4 linked regions of the Homo sapiens genome follow. The protein of the gene in region 2 interacts with the protein of the main gene of each other region in a pairwise test. Each region holds a gene or a part of one and is shown on either strand. Other genes may lie near its edges.

Evidence for each region. The genes of interacting proteins can lie anywhere in the genome.
Region 1: the proteins of CASP6 (region 2) and TMEFF2 interact in binary tests that used the Homo sapiens proteins (3 or more experiments, as listed by UniProt).
Region 3: the proteins of CASP6 (region 2) and LIPT1 interact in binary tests that used the Homo sapiens proteins (3 or more experiments, as listed by UniProt).
Region 4: the proteins of CASP6 (region 2) and RHEB interact in binary tests that used the Homo sapiens proteins (3 or more experiments, as listed by UniProt).

What each region holds. Positions count from the first base shown.
Region 1 is NC_000002.12:192,184,934-192,188,433, reverse strand, and holds part of TMEFF2 (tomoregulin-2 isoform 1 precursor), read left to right. Parts: intron 1-3,500. UniProt on the Homo sapiens protein: May be a survival factor for hippocampal and mesencephalic neurons. The shedded form up-regulates cancer cell proliferation, probably by promoting ERK1/2 phosphorylation.
Region 2 is NC_000004.12:109,693,446-109,696,945, reverse strand, and holds part of CASP6 (caspase-6 isoform alpha precursor), read left to right. Parts: intron 1-459; coding exon 460-536; intron 537-2,245; coding exon 2,246-2,421; intron 2,422-3,500.
Region 3 is NC_000002.12:99,157,967-99,160,801, reverse strand, and holds part of LIPT1 (lipoyl amidotransferase LIPT1, mitochondrial precursor), read right to left. Parts: intron 2,506-2,835; exon of another isoform or gene 2,390-2,505; intron 1-2,389. UniProt on the Homo sapiens protein: Lipoyl amidotransferase that catalyzes the transfer of lipoyl moieties from lipoyl-protein H of the glycine cleavage system (lipoyl-GCSH) to E2 subunits of the pyruvate dehydrogenase complex (PDCE2).
Region 4 is NC_000007.14:151,474,896-151,478,395, forward strand, and holds part of RHEB (GTP-binding protein Rheb), read right to left. Parts: intron 2,521-3,500; coding exon 2,438-2,520; intron 1-2,437. UniProt on the Homo sapiens protein: Small GTPase that acts as an allosteric activator of the canonical mTORC1 complex, an evolutionarily conserved central nutrient sensor that stimulates anabolic reactions and macromolecule biosynthesis to promote cellular biomass generation and growth.

The DNA of each region.
Region 1 (3,500 bases), on a different chromosome or scaffold from region 2:
TGAGGGTTCTCACTCATATGTCTGACTGTCAGCTGAAGACCTTGGTTCTTCTCCATGTTGATCTCTTTGCACGGGCAAGTTTTGTCTTCCTCATAGCATAGTGGCTGAGTTTCAAAGTCAAGCATCCAGAGAGAAAGAAAGAGCCAGGTAGAAGCTATATCCGTTAATGACCTAGCCTGGGAAGGCACACAGAGTCATTTCCACCATAGTCACAGGCCTGTCCGCTCTTAAAATCATAATTTTTTTACATTTAAGGAAATATAAATCACAGAAAAGTAAAAATTACTTATGGAATGGCCAAAGGATTGGAACATATGCAGATTTTTTTAATCTTTTTTCCCTTTTGGAAGAAAAATATACCATATCCCAAGCCATTCTTCTTAAGCCTTTGACAACTGGGAATATAACAGAATTGACTTAACATCTGTTGAGCACCTTCTACATGCCAGACTCTGTGGAAGGTGCTGGCAATATATAAAACATAAGTCATACATAAGCTTCTAGATGCTGAAATCTCAGCTCAAAAAACCTGTATTAATCAAACAAGCAATAAATCCCATGAAAAACTTCTCACATAATGTTTATTAATTTGTAGCAAAAATGAATTTCATGCATTCTAGTGTGCCAAGTAATTGAATCCACTAGTGTGGTGGGTAGCCCATTTTGGAACAGAATTCTTCTACTGAAAAACACTTATTTGGAAAATAAACATAAGATTTTTAAAACATAGAAAAATAGAATCACTTTCTCCCCTGAGAGGAAGTTTGTACAACACATACGTTTATGGACCTAACCATCTGAACTTGAGTCTTGTTTTTCCTCTTACCAGGCAACTGTGTGGTCTTTAGCAGGTCACTTAACATCTGAGTCCGTCCCTTCATCTGAAACTGAGCAGTATCATGAATACTACTAAAAACTATTTCCAATAATTTGGCATATTTTAATGCAGTAGTTAGGCTATTTCATGCTTAGGGTTAGCCTGTTTCCTCTTGTTTTTCTAATTCTAGAAACACCATGGCTTGATGTTAGAGTTAGATGATAACTCTACTAGTTAAAATACATATCATACAAAGCAAATAATTTACATGTCTTTGTATAAGTGAGTATTACAAGATATTTCTTGTTTTAAAAACATGACTTTGTTAATTTCCCAAAAGTTCCAGGTAAGCATTTCAAATGGGAAAACTAGGCTATAAACCTGTTAAATATTTCATTGTTAACTAATATACAAAAGGTCCTACACCAAGACAGTGAAAGAGATAGGACAACTTAGGACTAGACTCCCACTCGTGAGCTTTCATGATTTACAGCGTGCTTCCTTCTGGTGTTCTTCATATTAATAAGTGCAAGTCTTGATACTAAGGGCCAAAAACATCATGCCAGTAATCTACAGTTAAGCTCTTTTCAGCTCTGTAGAAATCTCCCTTTTGGCTTGTGCATGGAACTTGGCAGCTCTGTTTTTAGAACTGTTCGAATTTGGCTTACTGCATCCCTCAGAAGCGGCATATGAGCACTTTATCAGTTTATTCGATATTTTAAGATGCATATCAGCATTGTGTACTAGCACTTGGGAGAGATAATAAATACTTTCCACTCTCCACTCCCAGTTCACTGACTTTATATTTGAGTAATCTGAGAAGGATAAATAAATAAAATTTAAGGATCGGAGAGAAGAAAACACGGACCCAAATAATCTACATACAAAGTATTATAAGCAGGGATGGAGATGGAGATTGAAAGGTAGCCCGGGGCAAGAATACCAGGCCTCAAGCATGAGATGTTAACTAGTCCAGCTAGCCATAGACACATTATGACTCTCTTCTGTCTACTGAAAGGATCGGCAAGTCTATCGATCATTATGTCACCAGCTGTTTCCTTCTTTCTTGTCTCTCCTCCACGTGCTCAGACACCACTGTAGTGTTCATAGATCAACATAATCCTACCTACATTCTCCTGTCCCTGGTTCTGATCATAGCACATTTATCAAGCACCTATCCCTGCACTTGCCTTGCTGGCCACAGTTCTGGCATGAGCACAAGCCACATTTATTTGTGGTCTCTTCCGTACTACTCATTGGAAAATTCAAATCTTACAGGCATTTTGCTCCTGCCTTCTTTCTTGGATGGTAGTGGAGATGCTCAGGCCTGTGGTGAGTCAGTTTTCAGATGTAAATTAAAACAAATTTTTGGAAAGCTCCTGGAAAACAGTGCTTACACAGGTATCACCTAATCAGAAGTCAGTTTCTGATTGAGTTAAACATTAGCAAAAGATTAGTGAAAAGCTCTAATCAAATCAGTTTTTTAAATATAATCACATACATAGACTGAGTCTGGGAGACAAAAATGCAACTGTGGAAAAGAATTACTATATAGAGGACTTGCAGAATATCTAGATTATATATTGTAGAAATTAAGATAAAGAATATTTATAAAATATGTGCTAAAGCATCCTGTTAGTAATTATGGTCATCTTAATATGACTGTCATACCATTTGGGTTTACTGTTTGGAAAAAAGTTGATCACAATTACCAAAACATTATATTTAAGTTGTTAATAATATATGAAAAAGTAAAACTTATAGAATTAGGCTTTCATTTCAAAGAACATTGACATTTAAATTTGTTATGATAATTAAGCTATTATTATATAAAGGCAAAGAGCAAGAGTTAAATAGTTGATTAGGAATAAGGAGGTTTAGGTATTGTTAGGAAATAGAGTAAAATAATAAATTTCAGGTTTTAATCAATCAGATTATCAACATGTTGAGAGGTGTTTTCTTTTGCATACATTCTTGAGTTGAGGTTTATTTATGATAGGGTTTTAGGTTTGTTATCACATATATTTAAACTTTACTACCCATCTCACTGTATTATTGGTTTATTTTGTATGTATTCTGAACTCACAGCACATCAAAGATTCAAATATATTAATCAAAAGTAAAACATAGAGTTTTTAACATGCATCTGTAAGTATGATTTTCCTTACTTAGTTTCTGGCATAGGTGAGCATATACAGATAATAATCTTGATCATTATATTTTTTATAATTAAACAATGAAGCACATAAGTAGTAGTAATCATGAGATAATCACATCCCTGGTGTAATTAGCAGGCATAGAACAAAGCCAAGTATCATTAATGCCTTAGAGTATGATTATATTATGATGACTATACCCTGTTGGTTGCCTTAATTTTCACTGTAATATGTGTACTTTTTTAATAATGAGGTTTTTTAAAAATGAACTTTTCTCTTTATGGAATATCTATTAATAGACATACTTTGGAATAGTCGGTAAAGTTTACTTATAGTTCAGTAGTTGTTGAAATTTTTCTCTGAGTTCCATAGTTTTGCTTCTCTCTAGACCATATCCACATCAATATACAATAGTCTAAAGAGGTATAAAAATAAGTAAATCAGTATCTTATCTGACTATTTGGAAATTTACAAGGACTAGAATTCAATAAAAATTCAATTAAATTCAATTAAAAAAACAACTAAGA
Region 2 (3,500 bases):
GGCGTGGTGGTGGGAGCCTGTAGTCCCAGCTACTCGGGAGGCTGAGGCAGGAGAATGGCATGAAGCCAGGAGGCGGAGCTTGCAGTGAGCCAAGATCAAGCCACTGCACTCCAGCCTGGGCGACAGAGTGAGCCTCTGTCTCAAAAAAAAAAAAAAAAAAAAAACTTGCCTGAGTTATTTTCCTTACTCTGTTCTATTAAATGTTGACAGGCTTTTGCATTTGTACTAACATTTGCATAGTAGACAACAACACTCTAAATTGAATCGGCTGTCATTATGATTAAATCCTTTCCGACCATGGTGAATGAAGGGAAAACCACCATTGTTATATTTCATTTCTTTTCTCCTAAAGAAAGCAAATTTATGTGTCGTTAAAATGTGTATAGATTCTTCCAAAGTAAGGGTATTTGACAACTTTGAAAAGTTTATAGGCTAACATTTCATTTAATATACCACTAGGTTTTCAGATCTAGGATTTGAAGTGAAATGCTTTAATGATCTTAAAGCAGAAGAACTACTGCTCAAAATTCATGAGGGTAGGTAGTTTTGCTATCATATAGTTCATCTTCCTCTAATGAAACCGAGTCCTTTATCCTATCTGTAAAGACAGGTACAAGTAATTACTTGTGTGACAAAAAAAGTATTAATTTAGCACAGGTTACAGGTTTTGGGTATGCTGCTGTGTTTCCGTTACCCAGCACATTTAGAGACCCTTGCAAATAATTATGCCTCTAAAGTTTATATTTAGCATACCACTAGTTACAGTCTCTTGTAGAAATGAATGAAATGACCCCTTCAATTGGCAGTAAAAGCCTAAAATGCAAGTACTACAGGTGCTGGGCAGTCAACAGGCTCATTTTCTCATTGACTCCTTTCATGCCTCATTTTCTCACTGGTTTCCAAATAGTGTTGGTTTACATACATTACCTCCTTTAATTCTCACAGCGTCAATAGGGGGTAGGTATTCTAATTATAACAACCTATATTATAATCATCGCTGCATGCCAACCATTATATTTGCATAATTACTTTAAACTTTCTTCAGAGCTCTTCTTTAAACTGCACATCATTCTAACTTTGGCTGCTTTTACCAGCTTTTCTACTTTGCTCAGAAGCTTTGGAGGACATCAGTCTCATGGCACCGCACCTGGCTTTGAGTACTCTTTTGGAAGCTCTAAGTGCTATAATCTTTTTTTTTTTTTTTTGAGATGGAGTCTCGCTGTCCGCCCCAGGCTGGAGTGCAGTGGTGTGATCTCAGCTCACTGCAGCCTCCACCTCCTGGGTTCAAGCAATTCTCCTGCCTCAGCTTCCCAGGTAGCTCGCCCCCATGCCCAGCTAATTTTTGTATTTTTAGTAGAGATGGGGTTTCACCGTGTTGGCCAGGCTGGTCTTGAACACTGGCCTCAAGTGATCCACCTGCCTCGGCCTCCCAAAATGCTGGGATTCCAGGCGTGAGCCACTGCGCCTGGCCCTAAGTGCTGTATTCCTATAGTGAAAGTGCAGCAATGCGTGGGGAGCTGTTGAGCAGCAGTTTCTGGGTCTTTCCACTCTGCTCTAAGGTCTCTGCTGATTCAAGGAAATTTTTAGTTTATTGCCAAAATAACTTGGATCTTAAGTGAGATTCCCTATCGTAATCCCTTTATGTTTTCCACATCATTCTGTGTTTTAGAAAGGCTAATGAAATTTGGTCAAACTCTATTACTCTGAACTTTAATAAATTTGGATTTTTTTAAAAAAATAAGATACAGTACGGTATATTGTTTGATTAAAGACTAAGTTGTTTCATCACAGATATTTTACACTTATTAAAGAGTAGGCCGGGCATGGTGGCTCATGCCTGTAATCCCAGCACTTTGGGAGGCTGAGGCGAGGTGGATCACCTGAGGTCAGGAGTTCGAGACTAGCCTGGCTACATGGCAAAACCCCGTCTCTACTAAAAATACAAAAATTAGCTGGATATGGTTTCAAATCTGTAATCCCAGCTACTTGGGAGGCTGAGGCAGGAGAATCGCTTGAACCCGGGAGGTGGAGGTTGCAGTGAGCCAAGATCGCGCCACTGCACTCCAGCCCTGGGCACCAAGAGTGAAACTCTGTCTCAAAAAAACAAAAAAGACAAAACCACAAATTTTCCTCCTCCCCAATCATGTGGATGTAACTTTATTCTTGTGTTAATAAACTGAATTTTTATGTGTAGATAACAAGCATCATATTTTCATTTCTATATTCTCTTTTGGGTCCTTTATAGTGTCAACTGTTAGCCACGCAGATGCCGATTGCTTTGTGTGTGTCTTCCTGAGCCATGGCGAAGGCAATCACATTTATGCATATGATGCTAAAATCGAAATTCAGACATTAACTGGCTTGTTCAAAGGAGACAAGTGTCACAGCCTGGTTGGAAAACCCAAGATATTTATCATTCAGGTAAGACTGAGTACATTATCATCTTAATTATAAAGTCTGTCATTCTGAACATGTGATAAAGGTCTAAAAGCCAGTTTTGAAAGTAACTTTCTCCAGTAATTGGACAGGCCGTTTTTGAATTCTGGCCAATCATAGTTGCACTTTGAGCTGTTAGTAATAATTCTTTGACACTCTCATTGTCTATATTACAAAATAACAGCATTTGGATTGAGATTTGAAGTGACTCACAAAGTAACCAATGTGCTACTCCCTGTCCGAGCCTGATACCAAGGAGAGCCATTGGAAAGCGTACCTGCTGATTGAAGAGTGCCGCACAAGGCAACCTCATCAGACTAGGTTTGCTTCTTTGGGAGGTGGAGAGCATATAAACCAGTGGAAAGAATGGAAAAATAAAGCCTTCTAGTCTTATCCTGTCTCATCCCTTTCACATTGCCCCTTAAACCAAGATTGTTTCCCCGCTGCCAAATTGGTTTTAGGGATAAAAGTATTTTTTACAGGCGTGATGGCTCACACCTGTAATCCCAGCACTTTGGGAGGCCGAGGCAGGCAGATCACCTGAGGAGTTCAAGACCAGCCTGGCAAACATGGTGAAACCCTGTCTCTACTAAAAATACAAAAATTAGCTGGGCATGGTGGCAGGTGCCTGTAATCCCAGCCATTCGGGAAGCTGAGGCATGAGAATTGCTTGAACCTGGGAGGCAGAGGCTGTAGTTAGCCGAGAGCATACCACTGCACTCCAGCCTGGGCGTCAGAGCGAGACTCTGTCTAAAAAAAAAAAAAAATTTTTTTTTTTGCATGAATATTACTTGGCACATCATTAACGATTTTTTTTTTTTTTTTGAGATGGAGTCTCGCTCTGTCCCCCAGGCTGGAGTGCAATGGTGCAATCTCGGCTCACTGCAACCTCCGCCCCCAGGTTCAATTATTCTCCCACTTCAGCCTCCCGAGTAGCTGGGATTACAGGCACCTGCCATCATGGCTGGCTAATTTTTGTATTTTCATAGAGATGGGGTTTCACCATGTTGGCTAGTGTGGTCTTGAACTCCTGACCTCAGGTGATCTGCCCGCCTTGGCCTCCC
Region 3 (2,835 bases), on a different chromosome or scaffold from region 2:
CCTGTTTGACTTTGGGATATATGATTTACTGGCAGCATAACTTTTATTTAGATCAATATTAACTTAGGATGAACCCTTGAGGTCAGAGAGAGAGGCAACTGGGAGTATGCAGGTTTATATACAAAGGCTAAGAATAAATTCACTATGTTTGGATGCTTTCCACATTATTCATGTTACCATTGCTAATGAAATATTAGGCAGCAAAAGGTTGAAAATACTAGCTATGAAAATGAAGTATTTTGATTACTTATGGTCTTAAATCATTCTATTCCAATTCTATTTCTTAGAATATAATTTTCCTTCAGGTTGAAGAACTGGGAATAGAATGGATTATTAAAGTGTATAACTTGAGGTTAAGAGTTTGGTTCTAAATAAAGAAAGTTCATAACTAGGTAGCTAGGCTTTTTTATTTTTTATTTTTAAGACAGGGTATCACTCTGTAATTGTCTCACTGCAGCCTCGACCTCCTGGGCTCAAGCAATCTCCACATCTCAGCCTCTGAAGCAGCTGGGACTACAGGTATGCGCCACCATGCCTGGCTAATTTTTAAATTTTTTGTAGAGATGGGGGTCTCCCTACGTTGCCTAGGTTGATCTTGAACTCCTGGGCTTCAGTGATCCTCCTGCCTCAGCCTCCCAAAGTGCTGGGATTATAGGCATGGGCCACTACACCTGGCCCCAAATCATTTAGTTAAGTAATATCTTAGAAGTACAATTCTAGATTAAAGAGTCTTCATATTTTCATCACTCTTGTTGTAGTTTATAAACTAACCTACAAAAAGTTGAATCAGTTTACATTCTGTCTAGAAAGGTGTGGAGAGGTTTAATAGAGGAAGGAATACTTGAACTGAGTCACCAAATCTGATAAGTTTGCCAGGTCGAGGAGCATATTCCAGGCATATGCAAAGACAAAGAGTCATCTAATAGTAAGGTATGTTTGGGGATTCCCTCCTAAGAGAAAGAGTTACACTACTAGTCTTCGACTTCCACTTAAGCCTATGGCTATACTGTCCTAGGAAGCCTCGCAACCGAGACTGCATTACTTTGGTTAACCTCTTTGTTCTTGGTTCTGCTTGACTGACTTTGACACAGTACCATATTCATTCAACAAGTATTTATGGAGTTCCTACTAGGTACAAGGTAATAAGGAGATAGAAAATGGGAGGAGATAAATTCATGTAATGAACCAAAATATTTGGACTTTTTAAAAGGCAGCTAAGATCCACTGAAGTGTTAAGCAGGAAGTGTTAACTCAGCTGTTATACGAATCTGCCTCTGCAGGGTTGAGTATGGATTAAATAAAGGATGGACTAGGGACAGGGGGAACAGTTAATGGACTAAGGCAGTTGTCCATGCTAGAGATAATGAGGGCCTAAAGTACGGTAGGAGAGAGAGAGAGAGAGAAGGGGATGGATATGAGTGACATTAAGAAGGTGAACTGGCCGGGCGCAGTGGCTCATGCCTGTAATCCCAGGACTCTGGGAGGCCGAGGCAGGCGGATCACGAGGTCAGGAGATCGAGACCATCCTGGCTAACACAGTGAAACCCCGTCTCTACTAAAAATACAAAAAATTAGCCGGGCATGGTGGCAGGTGCCTGTAGTACCAGCAGCTCTGGGAGGCCGAGGCAGGCGGATCACGAGGTCAGGAGATTGAGACCATCCTGGCTAACACAGTGAAACCCCGTCTCTACTAAAAATACAAAAAATTAGCCGGGCATGGTGGCGGGCGCCTGTAGTCCCAGCAGCTCTGGAGGCTGAGGCAGAAGAGTGGTGTGAACCCGGGAGGCGGAGCTTGCAGTGAGCCGAGATCGTGCCACTACACTCCAGCCTGGGCGACAGAGCAAGACTCCGTCTAAAAGAAAAAAAAAGAAAAGAAGGTGAACCTGTCCTTGCCTTCAAGAAACAAGTACCTCCACAATCTAGTGGGAGATACTAAAAAACAAGTAAGGCAATAATTAAAATACAGTGTCCTAAATGCTGTGATAGGTGTTAAGTACAGTAGAGCGCCATCTAATGCTCTAATTAGTGGATGTGACATTGAAGCTGAGACATAAAAGGGATAAAGAAAAGAATTCTAACAATGTGCAACAGCTTAGTGGAAAAGGAGATAGGACCCATGCAAATAATTTAATTCTACTGGCTGGTTATTAGGAATACAAGAATGGGGAGTTAATAAGAAGGCAAGAGAAGTAGATGTTAGATTATAAAGAACCTTAAATCCAAGTGAAATGCTTGAACTTTATTGCCCAGGATGGAGTGCAGTGGTGTGATCACGGCTCACTGCAGCCCCGACCTCCTGGGCTCAAGCAATCCTCCCCCTTTAGCCAGCATGTGCCACCACGCCTGGCTATTTTTTTTTTTTTTTTTTTTTTGTAGAGATGAATCTCACTTTGTTGTCCAGGCTGGTCTCAAACTCCTGGGCTCAAGCAGTCCTCCTGCCTTGGCCTCCTAAAGCACTCGGATTACAGGCATGAAGGCTTTGGATTTATACTTCAGGGACACCGCCTAGAGATTTTAAGCATGGAGAATGTACAATACTTGGCAATAGGTTGAATTAGGGTGAGAGAAAGAGAAGTCAAGCATCATGTCCTTTATGATATAATGATTACAAGCTCAAACCAGAGTGCCCTCATTCAAATCCCAACTCTATCCTTTATCAGTTGAATGACCTAAGGCAGATTACTTTTCTATGTCTCAGATTTGTTATCTAATATGTGGATAATGACAGGACTCATCTCATATTATCAGGCTGAGTCTGATGAGCTAATACATATAAAGTGGTTAGAAGAGTGCCTGGCACTGAAGAAAGTACACAATATGTGCTAACTATTTTAT
Region 4 (3,500 bases), on a different chromosome or scaffold from region 2:
TATTTGTGTATTCAGCATATAGGTTTCTAAAAAACAAAACACCACTCTTCTCACACTCATGTTTGAGATTTGAGAATGCTCATTAAACTATGAGTTACTGAGGTAAAAGGCATATAACAAAAGAAAACACACCCATTTTAGTAAGGAGAAACTTGGTCAAAACTTGCAACAGTGCCACTGAGAAGACACAGTACCAAGCTTTTTGTCCTCTGCTTTGCACTAGGCCAGTGTTTTCTCAAATACATAAGGTCCTTGGTGAGCACACTTTCATATTTTTAATCCAGCTCAATGTATTTTTCAATTTCCCCAGTGGCACATGCTATGTTTTCAACTTGATTCTATAATGTCATCTAATTTGTGCACACCAAAAAAGAGACTTAAAAAAAATCAGTGGATGCACTAAGAAAATTTTCTACCTACTACTTTAATGCCTCAAAGTAACAATTTGTAAAGTAACACCAACACTGTTTTCTAAAAATCAGCTAGGATAAAATTGTACTTACCAACAACAAAACAATCTTTGAATCATGTTTTTCAAGTAAATTAGTAAAATAATGGAAATTCATAAACAAACATGAACTTCCAACATTCATTAGATTATTGGTACACTAAATTTGTTCTGGACAAGGCCTTACACGTGGCAGTATATACATTTTAAAAATATACAACTGAAATTAAAAAAATCTTTGTATAAAAATGGCCAATAGTTTTACTATTTAAAGTGCTCTTATAAGTCAGTAAGAAAATGATCATGTTTCCAAATACTAAGTACACAGTGGTTTTAAGCATAAAATCCAATCCAAGCATTGCTTTCAGTGACAATATAAATAAATACATTAAACAGGAAGAGAGATATCCATCTATCATTGAACATGAAATATTATAAAGCCATTTACTATTTCAAATACTAGGTAATATGGAAAAATATATATTACATGGTAAGTAAAAATATAAAAACATGGAAAATATAAACCATAAAACAGCATTCAGAGAGCAAATAAAAGGATGTTAAAACAATCCATGCAGACTAAAACAAAGACCAGAAAAAACATATACCAAGATATTAACAGTATCTATGCTTAGGTAATTAGATTAAGAATGATTACCCTCACTTTCTATTTTTCACAGTTCCTCAATTTTCCTTAAGGAACACATAATTCTGGTACTTGGTTTTGATTCAGGTGTAAACTTTCTCGGGGATTGACAGTATGGGGTCTGTTTATAAGAATGGCCGAGAATGGTACTCAAACATTTTATAGCTAGAACTCAACACCCTAAAGTATGTTTCTCTGCCACGGAGAAAAATGTTAAACAACACACTCACAGAGCAGCAGACTGAATTTTCACTGGCAGTGGAGTATGTGGGGGTAAGGAACCCAGACACTGGCCAACATGGCAGCCTCCAGCCACATGTGGCTACTGAGCACCTGAAATGGGGCTACTGTAACCGAGGGAGGCTTAATTTTCCATTTTTAGTTAAACAGCCACCTGCAGCACAGAGAGCAAACACTTCTATCACCGCAGTAAGTTCTATTGGACAGTGTCAGCCTTGACTGTGGAACTGGAGAGATGGCTATGAATCCCAGCAATGTCATTATGTAGCCCTGGGCAAGCTGCTTTAGGTCTCTGTCACTCAGTTTCTTTCCACGTAAAGTGGGATATAAAACATCTCTGATGAAGGATTAAGGTAATGATGAAATAAGTAATGTATCATATGTAGGCAAAGAGAGTAGCAAACTCCCTAACATGTCGCACACACTCAATAGATGCTACGTAGCCACCAAACGCCCTCCACTGGCACTGATATTTTCATAAAGTCTTCAAACATAAGCTGTCACCAATGCCCAGAGCTCCGCTGCTGTATACAGCCAGCTGTTCTGTTAACAGACACAGACCACTGCTCCTCCTGATAATACATGCCATCCCCCGATAAGAGGAGACATGAAATACGTAGCTAGAGGAACCGATATCCATTCTTATTAATAAAAATAGTGGCTTTGTTTTTATGTAGTAAAGTCAGACTCTATTACCAAAAGGTCTTATTTCATAAATTCAAAGGATAAGATATTGAACAAACCCAAACCCCCACATTTTATTAGAAAGTCTATTTCACCTTAATATGGTAAAAACACACACAAAGTAAAATTAATTTAGGCATTTCCCATTTCAATTAGCAGAAAAGCTTAGATCATGCTGAACCACTGTTTTTCTAGGTAGCTTGAGGTAAGAAAGAGCCTTTTATCCTATTGGTGTAACTAACAGAACATCTAGTGGGCCATGTTTCCCAGCAATCCAGTTGCTCCACGAGAAAATCACTAAAAAACATGTAGCCTAATAATTCTAATTGTCACTATTAATAATTCCAGCACAGTCCCTTAAAAGGATCAATGTTATCTATGAGTAGCAAATCAACTCAAGCAGGCAGCAGGAGTCTTACCTTTTGATTGATGTAACAGAATACACAAGAATATAGCCATTAATATCTATGGAGTATGTCTGAGGAAAGATAGAATATTCATCCTGTGGGGAAAAAAAATTATCTTTGAGTAGTCTTCATATAGCATCACAAACAAACTTTACCCAAAGTTTTTCATGTATTACCTGAAGAAATCAAAGTAGACGCAGAGTGGATTACAATATTATGCCAGAAACAGCCTACAAAGTGAAGCTTTAAGAATGGCCTGGAGGTGATAATGTGGTTCAAGCCAATATTTAAAAATGACTAGCTGTTCTAGAACTTTAGGGGAAAGTCTGATGACCTTCATAATTTCTGGGAGAAGAGGATGGATGGAACACAAAAATCATTGGCTCTGTGATCTCAAAACAAGGGATGAGCATCACTAACTCCAGAACCTTCTAGACCTCAGGACATTTATAAATCCTGCTGATTTATCCCATAAATCTGTATTTTTATATTTGAAACTGGCATATTATTTGATTTATTCTCTGCATGTCAGTCACAATGACCTGAGCTTCAGTCTACAGGTTGCTAGAGGGGTGCCATCAGCATCTGAAGGAGAGAGGGAGAGAGGGAGGGAGGTGGGGGAGAGAGAGAGAAACAGAGAAAGAGAAAAGAGGATCAAAACACCAGGTTCAATTGAGGTATTCAGACTTTTGGGGACCAAGAGAGTTATTTACTGAGCAACTCTAGGAATTAAAGAGAAAGGTACCTATTACGCAACAGCACAGTAGTCTTTAGTTTTATAAAGCAGCGTTATGACACTTTGCTTTATATACGTATTAAAGCATACAGAAAGTTCTGATGTCAGTGCAGTTTTCAACAGCACGCGCCACTGTCTGGTACGAACGTTTCATTCTTAGTTGAAACTAAATTGTCAACATAACACATGTCCTAAGCACTATTATGGAAAAATCACATCATGGTACCAGAAGATTAAGCAGCAGTCTATTATTTTTGTAAACTTATAGTATGGTTATAACCACTGTTTATGACAGCCCAGAATTACTGCCCTATGGTAAAGTTCTTTAAAGAAAAAAAA